Homo sapiens: one gene and its partners. The protein of the gene in region 2 interacts with the protein of the main gene of each other region in a pairwise test. Each region holds a gene or a part of one and is shown on either strand. Other genes may lie near its edges.

The links.
Region 1: the proteins of MTUS2 (region 2) and DMRT3 interact in binary tests that used the Homo sapiens proteins (3 or more experiments, as listed by UniProt).
Region 3: the proteins of MTUS2 (region 2) and ZNF76 interact in binary tests that used the Homo sapiens proteins (3 or more experiments, as listed by UniProt).
Region 4: the proteins of MTUS2 (region 2) and ZMAT2 interact in binary tests that used the Homo sapiens proteins (3 or more experiments, as listed by UniProt).

The regions. Positions count from the first base shown.
Region 1 is NC_000009.12:979,645-986,682, reverse strand, and holds part of DMRT3 (doublesex- and mab-3-related transcription factor 3), read right to left. Parts: intron 1-7,038. UniProt on the Homo sapiens protein: Probable transcription factor that plays a role in configuring the spinal circuits controlling stride in vertebrates.
Region 2 is NC_000013.11:28,823,339-28,830,376, reverse strand, and holds part of MTUS2 (microtubule-associated tumor suppressor candidate 2), read right to left. Parts: intron 1-7,038. UniProt on the Homo sapiens protein: Binds microtubules. Together with MAPRE1 may target the microtubule depolymerase KIF2C to the plus-end of microtubules. May regulate the dynamics of microtubules at their growing distal tip.
Region 3 is NC_000006.12:35,255,606-35,262,772, reverse strand, and holds the start of ZNF76 (zinc finger protein 76), read right to left. Parts: upstream 3,039-7,167; 5' UTR 2,932-3,038; intron 1-2,931. UniProt on the Homo sapiens protein: May be involved in transcriptional regulation.
Region 4 is NC_000005.10:140,703,412-140,707,189, forward strand, and holds the end of ZMAT2 (zinc finger matrin-type protein 2), read left to right. Parts: intron 1-506; coding exon 507-580; intron 581-1,014; coding exon 1,015-1,160; intron 1,161-2,201; coding exon 2,202-2,345; 3' UTR 2,346-3,275; downstream 3,276-3,778. UniProt on the Homo sapiens protein: Involved in pre-mRNA splicing as a component of the spliceosome.

The DNA of each region.
Region 1 (7,038 bases), on a different chromosome or scaffold from region 2:
CTGACCTCATGATCCACCCGCCTCAGCCTCCCAAAGTGCTGGGATTACAGGAGTCAGCCACCACGCCCGGCCAGCTCAACTATTTTTAAAAGAAATATATGAACCAAATAGCTTTGTGTTTTAAAAGGTACATCCCCTGCCCCCACTTTAGATAAGTTTCAAACACTGAAAACATATTAGGAAGTGTTTTCTCAGGTCTGTCAACCAAATTGACTCTTCCACAGTACACTTCAGTCTCCAGAAAAAAAGTGGATCAAACAGCAGAAGGCTAACTGAAAGGGGAATTAGGGAATGAGGTTCTCACTAACATAATGACTCTACCATTACAAAAATGGAGGCTTTTTTTTTTCAAGGTAGCAACAGATATACTGTCCCAATCAACTGAATACTTGATACCAGGATTACAAGTCTGACAATATAAAATTCCACTCTTGTACCTATTTTCCTAAGTTCTGCGGAACAGACGGTAGTGGAATCTTATGTCAGTGCCAGCTTGTTCAGCAATTGTGAACTCTCAGACTGTGAAAGTCACTTTCTCATTTTGTTGTGTTACCCTTTGCCCCTGCTACTGGGACATGCTAGTGCATCATGCACTTCTGGTTACTTGTCAAGGAGTGGTGATAGATTACACCGAATCCTCCATGCTCTCTCCGCAGGTCTCTGTGCCGTCTGGCTATAGCCAAAATATGAGAAAAGCTAACACAATGTCACAGGAATCAAATCTACAAATTCAGCGTAAACCAACCAACCAGCTGAGCTCAGCACTGCTTACACTGTGTTCAAAGGAAAGACAAAGATGATGAAAGAACAAGCAGAGCACACCTGTGAGGCTTATGCACCTGAGCCGCACACAAGGTCCTGCTAAGTAGTGCTGGGTGAGCCAAATCCCCATCAACATGTAAGGCTGTTGGAGTTTCAAAACTAGGCAAAGGAAGACTAGCCTCTAACTTTGCACCAAGAATAACTCCTCACCAAACAATAATTTCTGAAGGGCAGGATATATAGTTCCTGCAATTTTGTGGCGCTATGGTGTCTAGTACTGGTTGTATTATTGCACCTAAACTAAATATATTGTAAATTATTCTATTATAAATACAGACTTTCACAGGTAATTATAGAGGGTGAGTTTTGAGCCCAGTGATAAAGTGTAATTTAATAACAGGTACTTCTTTACATCTCCAGATTTGTTCTTAAATAAACTTTACAAATCATTCTAGTTGGTTTAAAACATAAAGGCCTTTCTAGACATAGAAATGTGAAACTGCCAACTAACAAAATAAAATAGGAAATACTCCTGAAACATTTTACCTTCTTTCTTCTTGAAACTGAAACCCTAATTCCTAGAACATTAAGAGTGTATATCAACTGATAATATTTTTACCCCGGTAGATGGGTATAGAAAGTCAAAGCTATTAAACAGGGAAGAAATCAATTTTATCGAATATGACAAATATTACTGAAAGTGATACAATATGCTGTTTCTATTGCTAAACATGTACATATTTTTAAAATCTTAATATTCTCTCTTCCATTTCATATTTCATGGGGTAGAAACACTTATAGCTATCCCTGAAATAAACTGTGCACTAGGGTAAAGAGGTTTTTAAAAGAAGTAGATATTCAATTAAAAAGAAAAGTTTTTCTACAGATAACAATGCTACCGACTTCAAAATATATATGCCATAAGATGACTACAATACTTTTTTTTCTTTTTTTGCTACAAGACTTTAAAGAGAGAAAATAAACACTCACAAAAGTGCTTTCAATCTAAAATTACAGTTTGAAAATGTAACTTTCTTTAGGGGAGTTTTTCACATAAAAATGCAATTTAGTAAAAAAAAAATGTATTATTTCAAATACTTTGAGAAAGTCTACCACATATGAGAAACAAACATTCTGCTCACGATGCATAAAAGTGAAAAATCTGGCTGGGCGCGGTGGCTCACACCTGTAATCCCAGCACTTTGGGAGGCCGAGGCAGGTGGATCACGAGGTCAGGAGATCAAGACCATCTGGCTAACATGGTGAAACCTCATCTCTACTAAAAATACAAAAAAAAATAGCCGAGCATGGTGGCAGGTGCCTGTAGTCCCAGCTACTCAGGAGGCTGAGGCAGGAGAATGGCGTGAACCCGGGAGGCAGAGCTTGCAGTGAGCTGCAGATCTCACCACTGCACTCCAGCTGCGGCGACAGAATTAGACTGTCTAAATAAAAAAAAAAAAATGTGAAAAATCTTTCTGACTTAGATGTCATAGGTTATATCCATTCTATCCAATTATATCTACGAAAACAAAATAGTTCTTACATACAGAATGAAAACACAGAAAAACTCGAGCAGAGAGGAATATTTCCTAGCTCAAAAGTCACTGGACTCCCCCATCCCTTTTGAAATCATGTCACGCATTTTGAAACATAGATTGTCATATCCTCATCTGTTCACTTGAGCTGTGGGGAACACACCTGTAAATAACAGGTCCTTGATGGGTAGTTTTCAAAGCACATAAATCTTACAACAATGGCAAGGGAGGGAGCCCAGGCAGGATGAGACTTTTACAGGAGACCATTGCCTAATCAGAATTCTAATCGTAGACAAACGCTTCACATTTTCTCTTACCTTCATCTCACACTAGAAGTGATGAATTATTTTAAAAAAATGAATAGTTGAAAATCTAAAGAACACCAGGGAATGATCTCGATCTAAAAACTTTCCTTTTCTTCCTGGGGTGGATTGCCGGGTTGGGGAGGGTTGTGAAAAGTTAAAAAAAAAAAAAAAACTAGCCATGCTTTACTTTTTAAAAAATCATTAACAACACTGAATTAATAACGTATGAAGGAATCAGAGTGGTTCCTTGACACTATATTTTGGGGGAATATTGCTATAGACAGGACTGGGCTGAAGGAAGTATGGTTTGCAACTGTGGACCTCACATATTTTGTAAAAAATTAGTTTTGATCTCTTTCTTGACTCAGAAGGGAATACCTTCCAAGAAGCAGAGGGGAAATTACCTACAAATCTACATGTTTATTTGGTACCTTCCAAAATGCACCTGTCTAACTCATCCATCTATTTAACAAATGCCCCTAAATGCCTTACTATGCTCTCATGTACTGTGCTGGGTAAGATCATACAGAGATGATCAAAGCATTGCCTCTTGACCACTGAGAGGCATACAGTTTACTAACTAATCTTTTGCAAAATTCCAAGTAAGCTGCAGTTGGTTATATTTCACAGTGAAATACAGCAAATAATTCCAAGGATAGCAGCTGGGCAGACCATGGTGTCTTCACAGGAGGAAATATTGTTTTAAATGCTTACATATAAAGATTATGGGTGCTAGAGATATATACTGAACTAAACAAAGTAATAATCAGTGGGAAAAACGTGGAACACTAATCCCAGCTCTGTAAAATTTATGTCTGCCTAGTTGTTGTAATCAAGAGATTGGAGATTTTGTAAAGAATTGATGTGCCGACTCTTAAGTTTTTCATTATTATTATTGTTACTTGGTACTTGATTGTGCCTTTTATAGCTGTTTATGCAATAAAATGCAAAAAAACCCCATACCTAGTTATTTTAGTTTCCCTTCTGAGAACAGTAGTATGCATTGCTCAGGCAAGAGGATGACTCACTAAGGCGATGTGGGACGTAACTGACACAATCACAAGGCGGTGGACCTGTGAGGACCAGCTGTCCTATCACTGCATCCTCCACCTCTGCCATGAGCACCCGTGCACAAGCCATCAGAGCCACACAGGACTAGACAAGGAGGTCCAAGGACCTGAGCAGCTAATGGCTAAGGGGCTGCAACAGGTTTAAAGGCGGGAAGAAAGGAAAAAAGCAAGAGGCGAGGAAGAAAGGAAGAGAAAGAAAGAGGAGGCGGGCAGGCAGGGCAGGCAGGCCCATGGTTTTTTGCTGGGCTTAGTCCTCCTTCCCGTCAGGAAGAAGTGCAACATTTCCAGAAAAGGGCTCCGAGTCCTCCAGGGACTTTGATTTATGAAGATTTATTCCTTTTCTCTCTGTAAAGCTGTTAGCAGAAAGTGCTGACTGGCTGCAGCAAAGAATTTCTCATCAATGCTCTTTGATTGTATTTTGCAAACAAAATGCCTGTTGCTTGGTAACATTTCACTTGAGCCTGACCTTCTCCGAAAGTTATTGCTATCAGATTCGATTCACACTGTCCTCCTGTGATTACTGTAATCTTTTAAACCCGGGAGTTCATCCATCAGGGAAAAAGAAAAGTTGGTTGTGTAAGTCGAGAGCACGGCTATCCTCCAGATTTATAACACCAAGGAGTGATTTGGAGGTGGAGAGAGGTTCTTTCCCAGATGGCAGTAGAACTCTGGTTCCTAGACGTGGAACACACTCTCGTTTTTCCTGCCAAACCGTCCCAGATCCACAGGATGGACCCCAGCACCTCCCTGACGCCAGTCCCAGGCAGCTCGGGCTCTGCAGAGAAAGAACTAGGAGATGAGCACAGGCGACCCCACCGCCAAGGGGTGCCCTGCGTGGGTACTGGGGCTGGGTGAGGAAGGCCTAGGCCTATGGTTGCCAGATAAAATAACAGGATGTCCAGTTAAGTGGGACCATCAAATAAACAAAGAAGGCTTTCTAGAGAAAGTATGTCCCATGCAATATTGGCATCCTATTTTTTGTTTGCATGATTTTTGCAGAAGGTGTCAACTCACCTCGGGACTCCTGCCTTGGGAAGGAGAGGGTAGTGAAGCTCAGGAAGAGCAGAGAGGGAGTGGTGGCCCAAGAGCTGGGCAAGGGAAAGGCAAGGGATGTGGCTGTCTCTGGGCGGTTCCTGAGCTGCCTAGTGAGCTGCTTCCTGACAGTGACCAAGGAAAGAGCCGTCCCCAGCAGGCGGCGAGAAGCTGGGCTCAGCTGCAGCTCCGACCCCCTGGTGCAAGGAGACGGCAGTCCATTGCGGCCGCAAGGAGCCGCTGCCCCCTATCTTTGCCCCTACTTTGAACCCGCTGTGGCCAGGGTCCCAGTCCTGGGCCAGCTGCCGCAACCCTCCGCAACACACACACAGCAACTGCACTGCGTGCAAACCGGCCAGGCCAAGAGCTGGGAAGACCGGTCCCCAGCAGCATCCCAGCCCCAAGAGCCAGCCCTGGGGTGGGGTTTGGAAGAGACCTTAGTGCCTGTATGCGTATTCCTTTTTATTTGGTTGGGTTTTGTTTTTTAAAATGCAACTGAGTCAAGCCCCTCACCCTCAAATCAAGCTGTCTTAAAATGAGACCCTGTTTTTCAATTCACAGGTACACTTCATAAATGGTTTTTAAGTATTTCCCGCTTTTCTTTTCTTCCTAGCCAACAGTCAGAGGGTTTCTCATCCTGGCCTGGACGAGTGTTCCGTAACACCCATTACACTTGCAGGTGCTTCTCTTTGGGGGAAAAAAAAATTAAAAAAAAAGGAAGTGGACTTTGCGGGACCCAGTCAAGCCGGAGCAGAAAAGCCCAGAGGCAAGCATAAAGATGCTAGGAGGCGCAGGGCAAGAGGAAAAAATAAAATAAAGGCAGTTTTCCAAAATCTCCTAACTTCTCCCCCTATAGTTATCTTGTTTGCTCCGCCCCCACCCCCTAAGAAATAAACAGGAAAGAAGATCCTACTTTCCCATTTGATCCTTCTCTCTTATTCCTAACCATGTTTTCGATTTCTTTTTCCTTTTAAAAGCATTTAAAAGAATGTGTGTACATATTCATTTTGATGGCAGATGGAGACCTAGGAAGAGTCTACAGCCACAGATCTTTCTTCTCATCGCACCACAGTCTAAGGTGTCCGAGGACACTCCCCTGGAGGAAAAGTTGGGGGTAGGGAAGGGAGCCACAACACAAGAATGTAACTTTAGCTTTTCACCTTGGCAGTGACCCTTAACTTCCCTCAGCTCTTGAGCCCACGTCCTGAAAGGCTGGCTAGGCTGATTAAAACTGCTGATTCAGATACACTAACAGTTGGAAGATCTTCATGCCTCCTGTATTTTCATGGGGAGAAGGAGTATGAGAAGAACATAGAGGGAATTTAGGAGAAGAATAAATGAATTAAATAGTGTATGTATATATACATATATATATACACACACATATATAGCTTAAATTAGAATTTAAATTTAAGCTATATATATAGCTTTTAATAGATATATATAGCTTAATATATCTATACATAGCTTAAATCAAAATGTTCAGCTCAATCAAAATCTAATAATTAATTCCAGGTCCATCGTAGATGGTAATCAAAGAGAAGGAGAAATCTACATTCAAAAAGAAAAAAGAATACTTCATAACTAGAAGTAAAAACCACTAGAATATGAAAATTCTCCTTAAAAACACCACACATTGAAAGGGATATTCAACATACTACACCATTAGATAAAATAACCCCATTCCTTTAAAGAATCTAAAGCAGAATTTGAGAAAAAATTCTTCCAGTTACAAAACTGAGTTTTGATGTGAATATGTCACTCCCTCAACGGGGTGGTTTTCCTCCAGTGATTCACAGCAAACATACTCTTCCTTAAGGCATGTGCTTTTCTCAAAGATTTCTGGAGAGGAAAGACTCCATGTGCTTCTGTTTACAAGAAAAAAAAATCTCTCTTCACAGCTTATGTATTAAAGAGGTCCTTTGCCCCGCAAAAAGACTAACCACATTTCAAAGTCAAAGTTCACAAAGTAATAGATCTACATTGCCAGCAGATATTGAAAGATTTCTGATGGTCTGTATACTTAATGTACATGTGGAACTACCATTCCAATAGAGTTCTGCTTACTCTCTGCACTTAGTTTTGCTTACTCTCTGCACTTATTCAGGAGTAGTTCTGATATGCTTCTAAATACATATGGAATGTTATACACAAATACATTATTAGAACAACTGCAAAAAGGGTATAATACCTATAGCAACAGGCAGTCTCAGTGAGCAGTTTTCTTCAGCTTAAACCCCAAATAGACTTTATTTCTACAAGCACTGTGTAGAATGGATCCACTTGTATGCCTGTCTTCCTAAACAATCATCTATTATTTTCCTACCTTTCTCC
Region 2 (7,038 bases):
CAGCTCTTCGAACACATTTATAATAGCTAATTTAAAATGTTTGTCTACTAAGTCCAGTATCTGGACTTTCTCAGGGATACTTTTGTTTTTCCTGTTATGGCCCATATGCTACTGCTTGTGTGTGTGGAAATTTTATGTTGAAAACTGGATTTAAAAAAATATGGCAACCTAGAAATAAGATTCCACTCTGCATAAAGGTTTGTTGTTATATTTGTTGCTACTATTGTTTCTATTGCTATTTCCCAGACTAATTATGTAAAGTCTACTTTGTTTATCATGTGCAGCTGCTGAAGTCTAGCTTCAGTGGTCAGCTAATGACGGTACAGAGATTTCTGTCTTTGCTGAGGGATTACGCGTGTTGGGGGGTGGGGTACATGCTTTTAACACTCCAGCAGGTAGTTTACAACTCTTAGTCTTCTCTTCCTACTTTACTTATGCAAAGCCTCATTGTTAGTCTGAGATGACAGATTAAGGCCTTATTAAGTATTTCCTGGACATACAGACATGGGACTTCTAGATTCCAAAGACTACATCAAAGGTTTTTAAAGCCCCCATAGGTAGCTCCTTTTCCAATTTTTCCTTTTAAGTTTTTTGGTTAACCTCTTGTTAACCCCAACTGGTGTCACTGCCTCAGGCAGCTGAGAGGTTAAACAATTACTGCTGATTGTTTTCCAAAAATGCCACAGGGCTCTGCAAAACAAGCTTTGAGAATGGAGTTTTTTAAGAAGCTTCTAGAGCAATCATATAGTGACAATTTTCTGAGACTGGGGATCTTAGAGGGCTCTAAACCTGTTTTGTCCCTTTCAGTGGCTTCTAGGCTATTAGTTATTGTTTGTTTTTTTTTTTAGACGGAGTCCTACTCTGTCATTCAGGCTGGAGTTCAGTGGCGCAATCTCAGCTCACTGCAACCTCCACCTCCCGGGTTCAAGCGATTCTCCTGCCTCAGCCTCCCAAGTAGCTGAGATTACATACACACACCACCATGCCTGGCTAATTTTTTTTTTTGTACTTTTAGGAGAGACAGCATTTCACCTTGTTGGCCAGGCTGGTCTCAAACTCCTGACCTCAGGTGACCCACCTGTCTCAGCCTCTCTAAGTGCTAGGATTACAGGTGTGAGCCACTGTGCCTGACTTAGGCTATTAGTTTTGAAGGCTACAATGGAGCTGCGGATGAAGGAATGGGAATAAGGTAAGTTTAAAAATGACAAAGTTCACTGTTCTTACTGAGATTCAGTCCTTTTTCTTGAATAAATATTCCTCAGATTGTTATAAACCCTTCGTTAATTTCCACCATTCTAAAATGGTTTATTTTGATATTTTTGCCAGTGCTTTCATTGTTATTGTGCAGGAGAGACTTTTCAGAATGTCTTTACTCCAATAATTCAGATGTGTTCCAAGATAAATAATATATTAATGCAATATTTTTAGGAAATCAAAATTAATGTAAAAAATCCATGATGAACGAAATATTAAAACTTTATAGATAGGATCAGTAACAGTGCTATTACAAACCAAACTGGAGCCTGACACAAAAGGAAAACTCAGTAATACTGATCCTGTCTTCCTTTAAAATTTTGATATTTTGTTCATTATGGATTTTTTGCATTAATCTTGATTTTCTAAAATGCATAAAATATTTATTTGTATTACTAAGTGTCTTGGTGTCCCTTAAATTTTGTACCTGAGGCAAGTGCTCAACTAGCCTCTCTCTACTGCTGACCCTGGAGTGTTGCAGGAAGTCAGGGACCCCGAACGGAGGGACCGGCTGAAGCCATGGCAGAAGAACATAAATTGTAAAGATTTCATGGACATTTATTAGTTCCCCAAATTAATAATTTTATAATTTCTTACACCTGTCTTTACTGCAATCTCTGAAGATAAATTGTGAAGATTTCATGGCCATTTATCACTTCCCCAATCAATGCTCTTGTGATTTCCTATGCCTGTCTTTACTTTAATTGCTTAATCCTGTCATCTTCATAAGCTGAGGATGAATGTCACCTCAGGACCCTGTGATGATTGTGTTAACTGCACAAATTGTTTAAACAATATGAAATCTGGGTACCTTGAAAAAAGAACAGGATAACAGCAATGTTGAGGGAACAAGGGAGATAACCTTAAAGTCTGGCTGCCTGTGGGCTTGGCAGAACAGAGCCATATTTCTCTTCTTTCAAGAGCAAATAGGAGAAATATCGCTGAATTCTTTTTCTCAGCAAGGAACACCCCTGAGAAAGAGAATGCATTCCCAAGGGGAGGTCTCTGAAATGGCCACTTTGGGAACGTCTGTCTTTTACGGTTGTGGATAAGCGGTGAAATAAGCCCCAGTCTCCCGTAGCGCTCCCAGGCTTATTAAGACGAGGAAATTCCCGCCTAATAAATTTTGGTCAGACTAGTTGTCTGCTCTCAAACCCTGTCTCCTGATAAGATGTTATCAATGACAATGCATGCCCAAAACTTCATTAGCGATTTTAATTTCACCCCGGTCCTGTGATCTCACCCTGCCTCCATTTGCCATGTGATATTTTATTACCTTGTGAAGCATGTGATCTCTGTGACCCACACACTATTCGTACACTCCCTCCCCTTTTGAAAATCACTAATAAAAACTTGCTGGTTTTGCGGCTTGAGGGGCATCACGGAACCTGCCAACATGTGATGTCTCCCCCAGACACCCAGCTCTAAAATTTCTCTCTTTTGTACTATTTCCCTTTATTTCTCAGACCGGCCAATACTTAGGGAAAATAGAAAAGGACCCACGTCAAATATTGGGGGCTGAATTTCCCCCGATACTGAAGAAATGTGGCTGCAGGTCACATTCCTGCTTTTATTGTTATTCTCTAAACTGAGATATTAATGCTAACTCACATTTATATTTTATTCCAATATCCTGGGCCATTATCAAAATTATAATCCTAAAATTTAGCAGAAAAATTTCAGTATAAAGTTTGGGGGTAGAGGACAATGTATTTATATTAAAATAACTTCAAAATCTGCTAGTAGTGGCAAATTAGCTCACTCAATATAAAACTAATTACTACCTGCCAGTTAAACTAATACAATGTGGATTTAAAAAAAAAGAATACTTGCTAGAGTCTTCAGAAAACTAAACCTAATGTTTGGCATGTTCACTGTACAAACTTCCAATGATACCATGTAACACTAATGGAAAATGCATCAGGCTTAGAAACATCAATTTCAACCAAAATTATTCTGCTACATGATTTCAATTCTCAAATTAACTTTCCCTGAAATAAACTGATAGTAATATAAGAATTAGAAGCAAAAAAATGTGTTTGGCTTAATATGTGGCAACATTTCCAACCTGAGAACACAATTATTTGTGTGTAGAAAAATACTGCCTGTCTTGAGAAGCTATTTTCAATGAGTAATGTCAAACAGCTTAGCACAAAGATAATTAATTCAGGATGATTTGAGATTACTTCTCCCGTATTTACAGAGCTAGTGTTCATATTAAATTTTTAGACTAGTACTCTGCAGTAGCAATCTGATGAAGTGTGGAAAATAAACTTCCCTATTAAGTGTTATTTGCTTCTGCTGTTTTATTATCATTTATTGTAATCCAAGGCTATATATTCCTGGCTTTCTCTATTGTACTTTTGGGGAAAAGCACTTAAAATCAGTGTATCAATATCAGCCTGTTTCTGGACAAATGTATTTGCCTTATTACAGTCTTCATAGACGCTAATGCATTATGTTGGCTTTTCATTTCTGCAAGGTGAGTCAAACTTTCTAAAGTCAGTATCAGGCCATCATCAATACTGGTTTGGCCCTAATCACACACACTGCTGGCTTATCTATAATGACTGTGTGTAAACACTCTTTTGTTTTTCTATGGGAACTGAACATACTGGTACAATGGGTCTACAGTAAACAGAGTAAAAAGACTAATAAGGAGAGGACCTCAGAGATCATATAGCCTATCCTCTCTGGGACAAGGGAAGTACATTTGGCTGAAATACAATAATCTTGTTTTTAAAATCTCTCAACAGATAAACAGTCTCGTCTTCTATCTAGTCTGATAATAAAAAATAGAAATAAAGAGACCAAAGTAATCATTTTTTATCTATTCATTCATCTAACCATGTATTTTAAATTTATTGATTTATTTACTTATTTAGCAGATGATATGACCATCTATCTGGAAAATCCAAGGAAAATAACCACAAAACAAGGTTATAATTAATAAGAGCTTGAAAAGTGCTTGGTTACATTACATTTTAGAATAGCTTTCTATATATCAATTATTGGTTATATGTAATACAACCAACATATAGAATATATACAACCAATTAGAAGAAGGCCCACTTACAAAAGCTAAAGAGGAGTATCAAATACCCAGGAATGACCTTAAGTTCCCCATTTTCCAAATACAATAGGGCACGTGAGAGAAGCTTGCAAAGTAAGAGACCACATGAAGTCATGACAGGCACAGAGAAGAGTCAGGAACACCAGACTCCTATAAATGCCACCTCCCCAATGCCAGCTGCATATGCTCACTCAAGCTGCTGTGATGCTCCCTACCCACCAGCAAACAATCCAAGGAACCTCTATATGAGAGATTTGTGTTTTGGTTGTTGAGAGTTTAAAATGGTTACAAGCTAACAGCTTAAAAAATGAAACAGCTATCCCATCCTGGTTCCATACCCCTGTCCCCATGAGTATAGAAAGGCTGTAACTAAAAACCAGCAGACAGGCCCTGGCTGCTGCTCCCCAATGGTTTCTTCACCTTCTCCATGGAGAAATTCATGACAGCCTGTTGCCAGGGGTGTGTGTGTGTGTGTTGTTCTGGTTAGCAGATGTTGAGCAGCCATCTGGGCATGCAGGAGCCTCGGTCAATGACTGAGTAATTTCCCCTCCTCAAACCCTAACCAACCCCAGTTCCCTTTAAGCTGGGGATTCTCTCTAGGCTCAGTTCAAATCAGAAAGTTGTTCTAGGTTCCTGATATTAAGACATTCCTCGAGAAAGAGCCGTGTGGTTTCCACTGTCCACATCTTTTATACATCATAGTTCCATTTGTTCCCAGGGTGACTGCAGGGAATCCAGGCTGGAGTGAGCTTGCCCCCAGCCTCTTTCCTATGACAAACCAGTGGGAGCCATCATTGAAAACATACACTCTCATTCCTTACTCCTATTCAGGTATGGTCTAGGCTGGATTCCGATGCCCTGAGAGGTCCTCAGTTCCAAGCCACCATACCACTAAGGCCCCAAGAACAACACCAGTGTTCGTGGGCAGCCTCAGGTGGCTGGAGTGGGGGATGGGGCTGCTGTCATGAGGAAAAGCTGGCCATGAGCATGAGATTCCCCCACTGCGGCCTGCAGCTGCCTCCCTGTGCTCCCCACAAATGCCAGCTGCACTCTGGTCAGGTGGCTCACTCTTCCATCTCCTTTAGGGCTCTGCTCAACATCTCCTTTCAGTGAGGCATTCCCTGACCACACTACTTGAAATAGCAATTCCCCATAACCCACTCCTGCTCCCCCATCTCTGATTTATTTTCTCCATAGCAGTATCCATACCTGATATATTAAGTACTTAACCTCATCTGATTCATTCCATTACACTGTAAGTTCCTCAAGGATGCAGTTTTTGTCTGTTTTATTTGCTGCTCTATACCTAATATGTAAAAGTGCCTGGCCTATGGAGACACTCAAACTTTTTTGTTGGATGGTGTTTAAAAAAAAAAAAAAAAGCTAGACACTGGTTAAAGGCAGTAAAGACAGATTTTACCCAGTACAACTGCAGTGAGAGAAAGAGACTTCAGTATAGAACTGAGCTCAACTCCAATTCAGGTAGAGGTGACTGGGTGTTTTAAAGGGAGAATAAGGAAGTAGGGAGGAGAAATGAGAATGTGTGGGGGCTCAAGCAGGGTCAAGGACACAGAACATTACAGCAATCAGGCAAGGGGGCTTGCCAATGAGACTAGGCCATCTGTGACTGCTAAATGGCACTTGTCAAAGTTAGGCTCCTACCCATCTACAGAGACTAGAGGACAGAGCCCTATCCTCCCTGATGATTACACTTCAAAGGAATGGCTCACAGACACTGAGGAAGACACTCCAGGTGGTAGGAGATACACATATATCTCAAAGGCACAGAGAAAGAATTACAATTGTAAGTTTTTAATAAACGATCTAACAAAATGAAAGTCAGGGGCCTATTATCATTTGTGTGGGCTAGAACAAAAGATAAATTCTTTGGGGCAGCCTTGAGCTTTTCTAGGTAGGAATGCAAGTGAGGCTGGGTGATCCCAGACACATGGCCTTAGGCTGCTAGATGCCATGTTATATGGTTTGGCTGTGTCCCCACCCAAATGTCATCATGAATTATAATTCCCATAATCCCCATGTGTCATGAGAGGGACTAGGTGGGAGGTAATTTAATCATGGGGGAACTACCCTCATGTTGTTCTCGCGACAGTAAGTTCTCATGAAATCTGCTGGTTTTATACGGTGTTTTTCCCCCTTTTGCTCATTTTTCTCTCCTGCTGCCATGTGAAGAAGGACGTGTTTGCTTCCCCTTCCACCGTGATTCTATGTTTCCTGAGGCCTCCCCAGCCATGCTGAACTATATGAGTCAATTAAACCTCTTTCCTTTATATATTACCCAGTCTTGGGTATGTCTTTATCAGCAAGGTGAGAACAGGCTAATACACCATGCTACAGTGTTTTCAAATCCGTTGGAGGGTGGGAGCACAGACAAAATTGTTTGTGTTGAAAGCTGCAGTTCTTACGGGCCAAGGTTGAGGCCCAGTTGAGAAGAGGGCTCAGGGGAGCCTGACTAAAGTTTGGTCAAAAAGAGAGTCTCTGTGGATGGGTGGGTGGATGGTAGATAGATGACTGATGGATGGGTAATTGATAGACAAGGTATACCCGTTGGTGGGAAGGGTCAAGATGATAAGATCTAAAGGCATCCAAATTCACATAGGAAGTAGAAATCATTTCAGAGAAAAGGGGAAACTCCTTGACTCTTTTCAACAACTCGTTTCAAACATGTGTGTGGTAGATATTATAAGCCTCCC
Region 3 (7,167 bases), on a different chromosome or scaffold from region 2:
GGAAGGAGCCGATTCCATTGAAGCTAGTCACATCAAGAGGTCACTAAATGAAGGACAAATTATATGAAGGTTTCAGGTCACAGAATGTGGCTGAGGATGGCAGAAGGTGGGGTGGTGGGAGTAGAACACTGAGACTAAAAAATAGGATGAAAGGCAACTGGGCTAGATGGTTTTAGAGCATACAGACTTGTGGATTCCTGGGGCTAAGGGACTTAACAAGATGAAAGGATTTGGGGTAAAGTGCCAGTGAGGTGGGAGACACTGTATGGTGAGTGAGTTCACAGGGAAAGGGCTGGAAGCGTCAAAGATTCATAGAACAAGAGATATTTGGGCAAAGGATGAAGAGAGAAGTTGACTGGGTTCAAGACACTACTCCAAAATATGGCAACTTGAGAAAATGGCAGTAGGAAGGTCACTCTCACTTTCTCTGAGGCTCTTCTCCCCTGAAGCAGATCACAAAACCTAGGAAGGATTTTTCTGACTTTCCCCTGAAGCAGGTCATAATACCCTCCTCATAAAGAGGTGCCCTCCCTATACTCAGAGGAAAGAAGCACCCTTATCTGTGAAGACACAGGGACACAGAGAAGAGTCTGAACAAACAGGCCTTGCTAAGTTTCTCCCAGTTTATTACTATTTGATATTACCCTTTTTGTATTTTTCCACAACTATCCACTCTTCATCAGATCTAGTATAAAAATATACAAGTTTAATCATTTCTTTAGGTCTTCATTTCCTTATGAAGGCTCCTGTCACATAAAACTTACATTAAATAAATGTATATAATCTTCTCTTATTAAATCTGTTGTTATAGGGGCCTAAGCCATGAACCTAAGAAGATATTTTCCCTCCCCTACAAGGTGCAGGGGCTTCAGGGGATATGAGATCAAAAGTCATGAACAGCAGGATGAGAAAGTCACCAAGTTACATGGCAAACGGTAATAGAAACCTTGGGGGTCAGGGCCAGTCTTGGTGGCTCACGCCTATAATCTCAACTACTTGAGAGGCTAAGGTGGGAGGATCTCTTGAGGCTAGGAGCTCAAGAACAGAAACCTTAGGGATCAAGGAACGAGCTGATGTTGTATTTAGGAATTACTAGAAAATAAGGAATAAGGAGCTGAGGTTGAGTAAGTCTGGGGGAAAGACAGGCAATGGAGTAGGGTTTTGTTTTGTTTTTTTAAACTGTGGGTTCAAATCTTAGCTCTGCTACTTAGCTGTGAGAGTTTCTGGTTCATTTCTCTGAAACCAACCAACCAACCAAACAAAAATATGGGAAGGGAAAATGGTGGATATAATAATAATTAACTCTTGGGGCTGTTGAGACGTAAATTTAACTTATATATCCAGAGCTTGGCACACAGTAGGTATTCAGCAAGCCAATCGTTATTGAGGCAAAATCAGGGTAAGAACCAGAGAAGTGAGGCTACAGCAGAGATGAGAAGATAGGGATTCCAAGATGTCAGTAGTAGCAACATAATGCAAGGTATGGGCCACATGTTCAGTCTGTTAAATCCCTAGCACTCAGGACAGAGTAAGATCCATAGCAGCTTCTCATTTCTAACAACAGCTTATGCTAAGGGTTCCCATGAGCCAGGCATGGTGCCCGGTGCTTTACATATGTTATGTCAGGCACTACTATTTTCTCCCTTCGCAGAGGTGGAGACTGAAGTTAAGACAGGCTAAATAATATACCAAAAGTCCCATAGCTGAAGGGCCAGAATCAGTCTGGAACCTAGGTTTGTTATGAACTCAATGCCCCCAAATGAAGCACTCTGCTATACTGCTTTGCAAACATGTTAACTGATGGGGCCTGATCAAGGGAAATGGGTATGCACTATGAAGAGTGAAGAGGGTGATCCGGGAATGAGGGAGTAAGGTTCATGATGCAAGCAGATCCTGGGATGAGGTTACAAGAGGAAATTTCCAGGGTGGGGTACAAAAATGATTGCAAAAAATTATTATCTTGACTGAGAACTGCATAATTTCACAATTTCACAGACGGAAGGAAACTCAAAGATCATCTAACCCAACCTCATCACAGTCATGATGAGAAACTGAGGTCCAGACTGAGGAGGGGACTTCTCACAGGTCCCTAAAGCACAGCAGTGACAGAGCTGGGACCACACACTGGATTGACTGGATTCTGGATTGATCCAGAATTCTCTGATGCCTCCAATTATTACTACTTCATATTAATCTCTATATCCTCCTTAGCACCAGAAAGGTGCTGGACGCTTGTAAGTCATGTGCTGATTGACACTGAAGGGCTGGGATCGCAGAGAGAGATGCCAGTGGGGGTGATTTTAGGATAAAGGCAGACGTGGAACGAGGGTCATACGGCTACAGGATAAAGATACTGAGGGTTGTGTACAAGGTGAGTGCGTGGAAAACTATTGGAGTAGGGCTTAGGAGTCGCCAGCAGAGTTTTGAGGGGAGTCACCGAGTTTGTGGGGAACACAAGGTAGAATCGGGGGGGTTACTGGGCCAGGAGGGTTACCCAGGTTTGGGGGTCACTAAGGAGGAGTGTGGGGATCTCAGGGTCATGTGAGTCACCGGATTAAAACTGAGGGAGTCACTGGTTGGTGGGTCTCTGAGAAGTGCTGGGGAAATTCCTGGGTTAGCAGCCAATGAATAATAACCAACGGTTACCTGGTGAGGTCTTGGGGTCAGTGGGTGGGGTGTGGGGTCACAAGGGTGGAGGCGGGCGCCGTCACGGGGTGAGGTTTGGGAGTCACGGGGGAGGAGCCGCAAGGCGGAAAAGAGGGGCAGGGACCCTGGGTGGGGGAGGGGGCCCGGCCGCGGTCCAGCGGCCAGGCCGCCCTGCTAGGGCCGGAGGGAGGTGGGCACGCCGGGCTCGGGACCTTCCCGGGGTCCTGCGCCCGCCCGGCCTCCCGCCCTGGGCATGGTTGGCCCACTCCTCCCGCAGCCACCAACCTGACAGCCCCCGAGGGCGACTCCGCCGACAGACCGCCATGCACCGGGCCCCGCCACCAGCGCCGGCCCCACAACCCGCCTGCGCCATAGCCCGCCCGCCCGCGCGCAGCTTGCCTCGCGCGATATCCAGGTTCCAGGGCCGCCGCACTTTCCTTTCCTCTTGGCGCGCCTCTACCGGGCCCCGGAACCCGTATAGAAAATACCGGGCACGGTCCACCCCGCCCCCCGCTTCGCCGCGGCAGCCATCCAACTTATCCTGGTTCCGGGGCTCCTGGAGCCCAGGCGGCCGGGATCTGAACCGAGCTCTTCGGAGCCCCGCCCCCACCAAGGCCGGGGTGACGCATGGCCAGCGAGGCTGAGCGCCCAGGGAAGGCGTGCTGACGTCACGACGCCCGGGTCAGGGCCTGGGCGCGGCTCGGAGCCGGGTCGTCGCTATAGCAATCGGGAACCGCTACCTGTCCATTCCAAGGATTCGGTCCAGCAGAAGCGTGAGGAGGTGGCGGAGGCCCCGAGGGCTTTGCGTCATCACTTCTGCGGCCTGCGGGCGAGAAGGTGCGCTTCGGGAGTAGCGCGGGAGGACAGGAGGCGCAGGTTGTGAGGGACGCAGGCCCTGGGGCTTCGGTCTCTGTCCTCCGAGCTCAGAGCCTCCAGGCTTCTTCCCGGCCGCGCGCTCAGCACTCACTGTCTTACGGTCCCGAAGCGCTTTAAGGTGCGCAGTCCGCAGGCCTTGCCTACTGATCTTCCAGCCACCCCTTGAAGGAAGCAGTTGCAGGTATTAAGAGCTCCTTATTGAAAAGGACGATGTAGAGGGGCGGTGAGGGACTCGCCTCCGCAGGGAGGGCGCCCTGGCGGTCTTCTCAGGTTCTCTCTCATTCCCGCGTCAGCTCCACCGTCAGGCTCGAAACCGACTACTCCCTTTTGTAGGCTTGCTTTGGGTTGAACATAAAAACCAAGCCCCTTTACTATTTCCCTGCTGGGAGGGGCTGCGATTGGGAAATTTTCAGAAACCTGAGGGAAAATTAAAAGGGAGCGAGCTTTCGGTAAAAAATCAAATTAAAAAGGAGGGGCGTTAGAGAAGGAACTGGTAAAGATTGCCTTTTAGGAGAGGAACTGGGTGGCTGGAAGAATGAGGTGAGAAACTTTCCCCTCTCTATCCTTTCAGACTTTAACTGGTTTCTTTTGTATCTTCCCCGCCCCGAAAACAATTTAACTTAATAAGAATAATTTTTAAAGGACGTAAACTAGACACAGTTACAAAGTACGGGGTTTGGGGCTTGTGGTAGCTAAAGGTGTCTTTGGGGATGCGGGCATCCTTTTCCTCTCCTGCCTGAAGAGCTTAACTAGAAAGCCCCCCTTTCGGTCTTAGACATCCCCTCTTCCTGACTTGTTCTGGCTGGGACCAGAGTTCAGTTTAGGTAGGCCAGTGAGTGACATTTGATGGTTAGAATTCCTACGGTTAGAATTAATCCCTTCTGTATCTCCTAGTATGGAAATAAACTGCCTGGCCACTATGCTGCCCTCTTTCCATTCCTTTTTGGTGGAAGTTTGACAAGTTATTTCCCATAGAAAATAACTTATAGGCCGGGCGCCGTGGCTTAAACGCCTGTAATCCCAGCACTTTGGGAGGCTGAGGCGGGCGGATCACGAGGTCAGGAGTTCGAGACCAGCCTGGTCAACATAGTGAAACCCCCCCTCTCTACTAAAAATACAAAAAAATTAGCTGGGCGTGGTGGCGGGCGCCTGTAATCCCAGCTACTCCGGAGGTTGAGGCAGGAGAATTGCTTGAACCCGGGAGGCGGAGGTTGCAGTGAGCCAAGATCGCACCATTGCAGTCCAGCGCGGGCAACAGTGTGACTCCGTCTCAAAAAAAGAAAAAAAAAAAGAAAAAGAAAAAGTACCTTATAGATACAGAGAGAAGATTAAGTAGCTCCTCTTATAATATGAATTGAGGGTTAGAAATACCGCAGGGAATAGAACTCAGGCTGTACCTGAGTTTGTCCCTCTCCAACCACCCTTTTTCCATAGCTCTCTCTGTATATATATATCTGTCTTTTCTCACATTCCTTACGGATCGTAATCTGATGGCCAGTCACCTCTGCAATTATACATTTAACAAGAGCTCTGGGAAACAGTGTCTGAATCTGAAGTAATGATCCTAATGGAAGGTAATTTCAGGTTCTCAGGAGAATTGGTGAGGATATTTTGGAGGGCAGTATTGAAGACCATTGCTAGCAGTTTCTCTCCTATCCCTTCCACTCAACATATAGGCTGGTGATCTTCAGACATTTTTTAGAATGAACCCATAAAAGAATTTTGAAGAGCTATGTACCTCTTGTTCATTTTTAAGTTGATACCTAAATTTTCCTTCATTAATTTAAATACTTATAGAGGATACAATTTCAAATTTTGACATCTTAAACTAAGACTTACATCATTCTTTTTTTCTGAGACGGAGTCTCGCTCTGTCAACCAGGCTGGAGTGCTGCAGTGGCGAAATCTCAGCTCACTGCAACTTCCCCTTCCAGGTTCAAGCAATTCTCCTGCCTCAGCCTCCCGAGTAGCTGGGACTACAGGTATGCGCCACCATGCCTGGCTAATTTTTAGTAGAAACGGGGTTTCATGGTGTTAGCCAGGATGGTCTCGATCTCCTGACCTCGTGATCCGCCCGCCTTGGCCTCCCAAAGTGCTGAGATTACAGGCATGAGCCACCACACTTGGTCTACATCATTCTTAATGTATCTGGCAGGGCAGGCACAGTGGCTCATGCTTGTAATCCCAGCACTTTGGGAGGCTGAGACAGGCGGATCCCGAGGCCAGGAGTTCGAGACCAGCCTGGCCAAGATGGTGAAACCCTGTCTCTACTAAAAATACAAAAATTAGCCGGGCATGGTGGTGCGTACCTGTAGTCCTAGCTACTCGGGAGGCTGAGGCAGGAGAATCACTTGAACTCGGGAGGCGGAGGTTGCAGTGAGCTGAGATCGTGCCACTGCACTCTAGCCTGGGCTACAGAGTGAGACTGTCTCACATTAAAAAAAAGTATCCGGTGGATTCCAAGTACCCTAAAAATCTAATGCCTACCATCATCCACTTAAAAATATATGAACAAGCTCTTCAACAGAAATTTTATATGGTTCTCTTTCTCCTTATACTTTGAATTCCATTCACTTCCTGTAATCATTAGTATATAACTTACTAAACTTTTTTTTTTTACTAAATATTACTAAATACTAAATTTTCCTAAATATTTTTAACATTTTTATGACTTGTGAAACCTAAAAAGTACAATTTTTATTGAAAATGCATCTGTTAATGAGAAATATGGTGTTTCTCCCCAATTAGTTCAGGTATTCATGGATTAATATTACCTAATGGTAGAAGGAGATAAGGTGCAACATCAATCCTTTACCTGTTTTTTATTTTTATAGACATGAGTATTGAGAAACCTTGTTTCCACAATTGGGAAAGGAAGAGATTTGTTACAATGATATTCTTTGAGTCTTTGAACTTCTAAATTATATGCCAACAATCACAGAGTGATCTATTAATACTATCAAATAGAGTCTTCTTTTAATTTTGTTAAAAGCAAAGGATTAGAAACCACTGAACTTCCAAAAGGATTTAGTTATTAGAGTCTCAGTTTTGGTTTTATTAAACATGATTATTAATTATCTGTGACCTTTACACTCAGAGACACTTTGTTAATCAGATATTGATTTCCATACTTCTTTGCCTACACAATATTTTTTGGTAAAATTCTTTAATTATTACATGTCTTCAAGAACTTTTTGTTAAACTGAAATGCAGATTCAGCTCATTCACTGTATAGAAAACAACTGCCATTTGTGGAATTGGCAAAGCCAGTTTTCATTTCAAACCAATCAGCCAAATCAGACCTACTTTCTGTTAGAAACATGTCTGACTTTATTCTTCCATTCAAATAAATATGTTAACATTCATTTTGAGGAATATTATAAAAATTATTAGGAAATAAATGATTAACTATAGCTTATAAAATGGACCACTGATAAACCAGTCAAGATTAAAATTATTTAGACCTACTATTAACATAATAAATGGTAAAAATAAGATAGTACTGTTTTTCATTATATAATTAGGAATAATGCTGTATAATGTATAGTTAAATCCATCAGTTTTGAGAAGTCATATAGAAGGCATATATTCCCTTGGTAAATGTGTGTGCCTGCTTTCATCAAACTCTTGTTGTTCAGCTTTTGG
Region 4 (3,778 bases), on a different chromosome or scaffold from region 2:
TTAGTAGAGACGGGGTTTCTCCGTGTTGGTCAGGCTAGTCTCGAACTCCCGACCTCAGGTGATCCGCCCGCCTCGGCCTCCCAAAGTGCTGGGATTACAGGCGTGAGCCACCATGCCCGGCCACCCCATAGACCTTTCTATAAGACTGCTCACAATAAAGCAACTGGCTTCCCCAGAGCAAGTAACCCAAACAAAGACAGAAGGCATGGTTTTTAAAATAACCTAATTTTGGAAGATACTACTTTTGACATATTCTATTGGCCAAACAGACCAACTCTGGTACAAATTGGGAAGAGACTACACAGAGTAGGAATACCAAGAGGGTGGGGCTCATCCTGGGGCTGTCTTGGAAGATGACTGCTATACTCTCTCGAAAGCTAAGGCTTTATAGAAATGAAGGCTTAACACTTCTAAAAAGAAGTTTACCTAAAAATTTGAGTTTCTTGGTTGAAAATGATAAGATCCTTAAAACCATATTTGACTCAGGTGCTGTTTCTTCCTGTTAGATATTACTGCAATGTCTGTGACTGTGTGGTGAAGGACTCCATCAACTTTCTGGATCACATTAATGGAAAGAAACGTAAGGCTTGGAGGTAGCTTGTGACTAGGGCTGGAATTGGGTTTTGGAGGTGGGGTGGAATGGAAGGGTAGCTTTTTTTTTCTTCTTTTTACTCATCAAAAGATGGCTGGAGTAAGAAGGGTAGTTTCTACTGGGCTCTTTTTTGATGCCCCTATTAGAACTCTCCAGTTGTTTCAGCACAGGCCGTCTTTTACTTCATTATGTAATATTTCTGGAGGCCGTGAGGTAAGAGGCCTCATTCTGGAGGCCATGAGGCTTTCAACAGCACCCAAACCATGTGCTGCTCCTGGACCCAGCTGGCCAAGGGAGTTTCTTTTAGCCATAATTATTTTTGCTGTGTGTTTTATGAGATGTCAGAGAAGTCAGGAAAATAATTTTTGAGGGGCTGAGGATGTTGTAATGAACTTGCCTTCTTCACTGTTGACCCTATGCAGATCAGAGAAACCTGGGCATGTCTATGCGTGTGGAACGTTCCACCCTGGATCAGGTGAAGAAACGTTTTGAGGTCAACAAGAAGAAGATGGAAGAGAAGCAGAAGGATTATGATTTTGAGGAAAGGATGAAGGAGCTCAGAGAAGAGGTAAGGGTCTCCTATCCTTCCCCTCTCCCCCAGATTTGAGTTTTATGTTATGAATCATGGGAGACCCTGTCCTCATCCCACTCCTACTCCCACCCCCAGAGTTGTATCTCCTGAGTTCTGTATATTAGCGGAAACATTTGTTGCCTTTGTTTAGGATTCTCATGATCTGAAGGAAATGGCTCTGAAACTACTTTTTTCTCCTAGACTCTCTGGGCCTTATTTTTTTTTTTGTAATTTAAAAAAAAATTTTTTTTTTTTTTGGTCATACAGATATTTCTCAACTTCTGATGGGGTTACCTACTGATAAACCTATCATCAAGTTAAAAATATCATAAGTCAAAAATACATAATACACCTAACCTACTGTAGTTTAGCCTAGCCTACCTTAATGTGCTCAGAACACATTAGCCTACAATTGACCCAAATTATCTAACACAAAGCCTATTCTATAATAAAGTATTCATCTCATTAATTTATTGAATACTGTACTGAATGTGAAAAACAATGGTTGTATGGATACTTGAAGTACAGTTTCAAATGCATGTCAGTTTTTCACCATTATAAAATTGAAAAATCTTGTCAGCATCATAAGTTGAGGACTGTCTCATCTGTATTCTTTGATTTAATTTTTTTAAAAGACTAAACTTTTTTTAGAGGAGTTTAGGTTTGCAACAAAATTGAGAGGGAGTTATAAAGATTTCCCATATACCCACTGTCCCCCACAACATGCATAGCCTCCCCCATAATTTTTTTTTTTTTTTAACTGCAAGAGGAATTAACTAAATGTACCTAGTCCTAAAGAGACCCATGAAATCAGGCTGACTGGGTCAAAATTCTGTTTCTTCCACTTACTGGCTGTGAATCTTGGGCAAGTTATATAACCTCTTTGTGCCTCAATATCCCCATATTAGAGATCTTAATATACATGAAGTACTCAGAGCAATTTCTGGCATGTACTGCATGCCCCAGAATGTTAGTTGTTGTTACAAACAACATTTGGCTGAGGAGTCTAAACTGATTCTGAGTGATTTTTCCCTCCAGGAGGAAAAGGCCAAAGCGTACAAGAAAGAGAAACAGAAGGAGAAGAAAAGGAGGGCTGAGGAGGACTTGACATTTGAGGAGGACGATGAGATGGCAGCTGTGATGGGCTTCTCTGGCTTTGGTTCCACCAAGAAGAGTTACTGAGGCTTTCTGTGCTTGGCCTGACTTTGGCCTATGCTGGACCTAACTTTGCGTGTGTGTGTGTGTAGTAGGGGGTCATTTCTTTTTGGGTAATGGGAAAGTTCTTAAGAGTGTCAATGGGGAGGGATAGAGGGTGGGGGCTCATGGTTTCCCTCTACTTTGGGAGAGGGCACAGATTGCAGAGGTAATGCTGTGGCATATTGCTTCTGCCTCAGTGTATCACTGGAGTCACAGGACCCTGCCCACCTGAGTTCCCAATAAAGAAAAACCTCCCCTTCTGAGGCTGCTTTCCCAAAACTCCCCCTGCATCTTTATCTCTTCATCTATCCCACCTCTTGTCTGAACATCCCACCTTTATCCTGTGTTCTGCCTTTGTTTTAATTTTAACTCATGTTCATCCTGCAACAGAAGCATTCTCTAGGTCCCAGTTTCCAGTTGATTGCATATCCTTGATCAGCCCTTTTTCCCATCCTGCCCTATGGTTCTCTAGCCACCTGTGCATGCATGTGTATTTCTGCCTGGTTCTATGGTGTGTGGATGTGTGTGCATGAATCTGTCATATAGAGGGGGTCCGAGCTGGAATCCTAGAGCATTGCTGCCCTGGGGCCTGATGTTCTTGGCTTCCTCAGAGCATGTAACAGGAAATTAAATGGGATGAGTGTTTGGTGTGGTTTGTGTCTGATGAGTTTTTTAACATTCAGGTGTAGATTGTTTCAGCTTCTCATGTTTCATTTTCCTGAAGATTTATGTTTTTGTCTACCTTGTGAGCAGGCTTTTGGAAGAACCTGTTTGATGCAAAAAAGAAAATGAAAAACAAAACAAAAAATCCCCAAAACCTTATTATGGGAGCCCGTCGGTCTTAGAAGCTGTTTGACATGTATAATAAATGGCATTGACTGGGCCTGTTTTACATTTGGTGAGAACATTCCATAATCTTCCCTGTGAATATTTGTTTTTCCTTCTCATGCTGAGGATTTCCATATAGAGTATTTTATTCTTCCATTTTAAATCTTATTTTTGCCTAGGTTTTTTTTTAGCATGAGTTATGTTTTCGTCTGATAAGGGATCTATGTCCAGAGAAGTCTGAACCAAAACGATTCCTATCATTTCAGACTCCTTTGATCTTTTGTTTTTGGAACAGCAGAGCTCAGGATTGAACATAATGTTTTTTCTTTTTTTTTTTTCTTTTTTTTGAGACAGTCTTGCTCTATCGCCCAGTCTGGAGTGCAGTGGCGTAATCTTGGCTCACTGCAACCTCCGCCTCCTGGCTTCAAGTGGCTAATATTGTATTTTTAGTAGAGATGGGGTTTCACCATGTTGGCTAGGCTGGTCTCAAACCCCTGACCTCAGGTGATCCACCTGCCTCGGCCTCCCAAAGTGCTGGGATTACAGGCGTGAGCCACTGCACCTGGCCCTTAGTGTTTTTCTTACTGTCT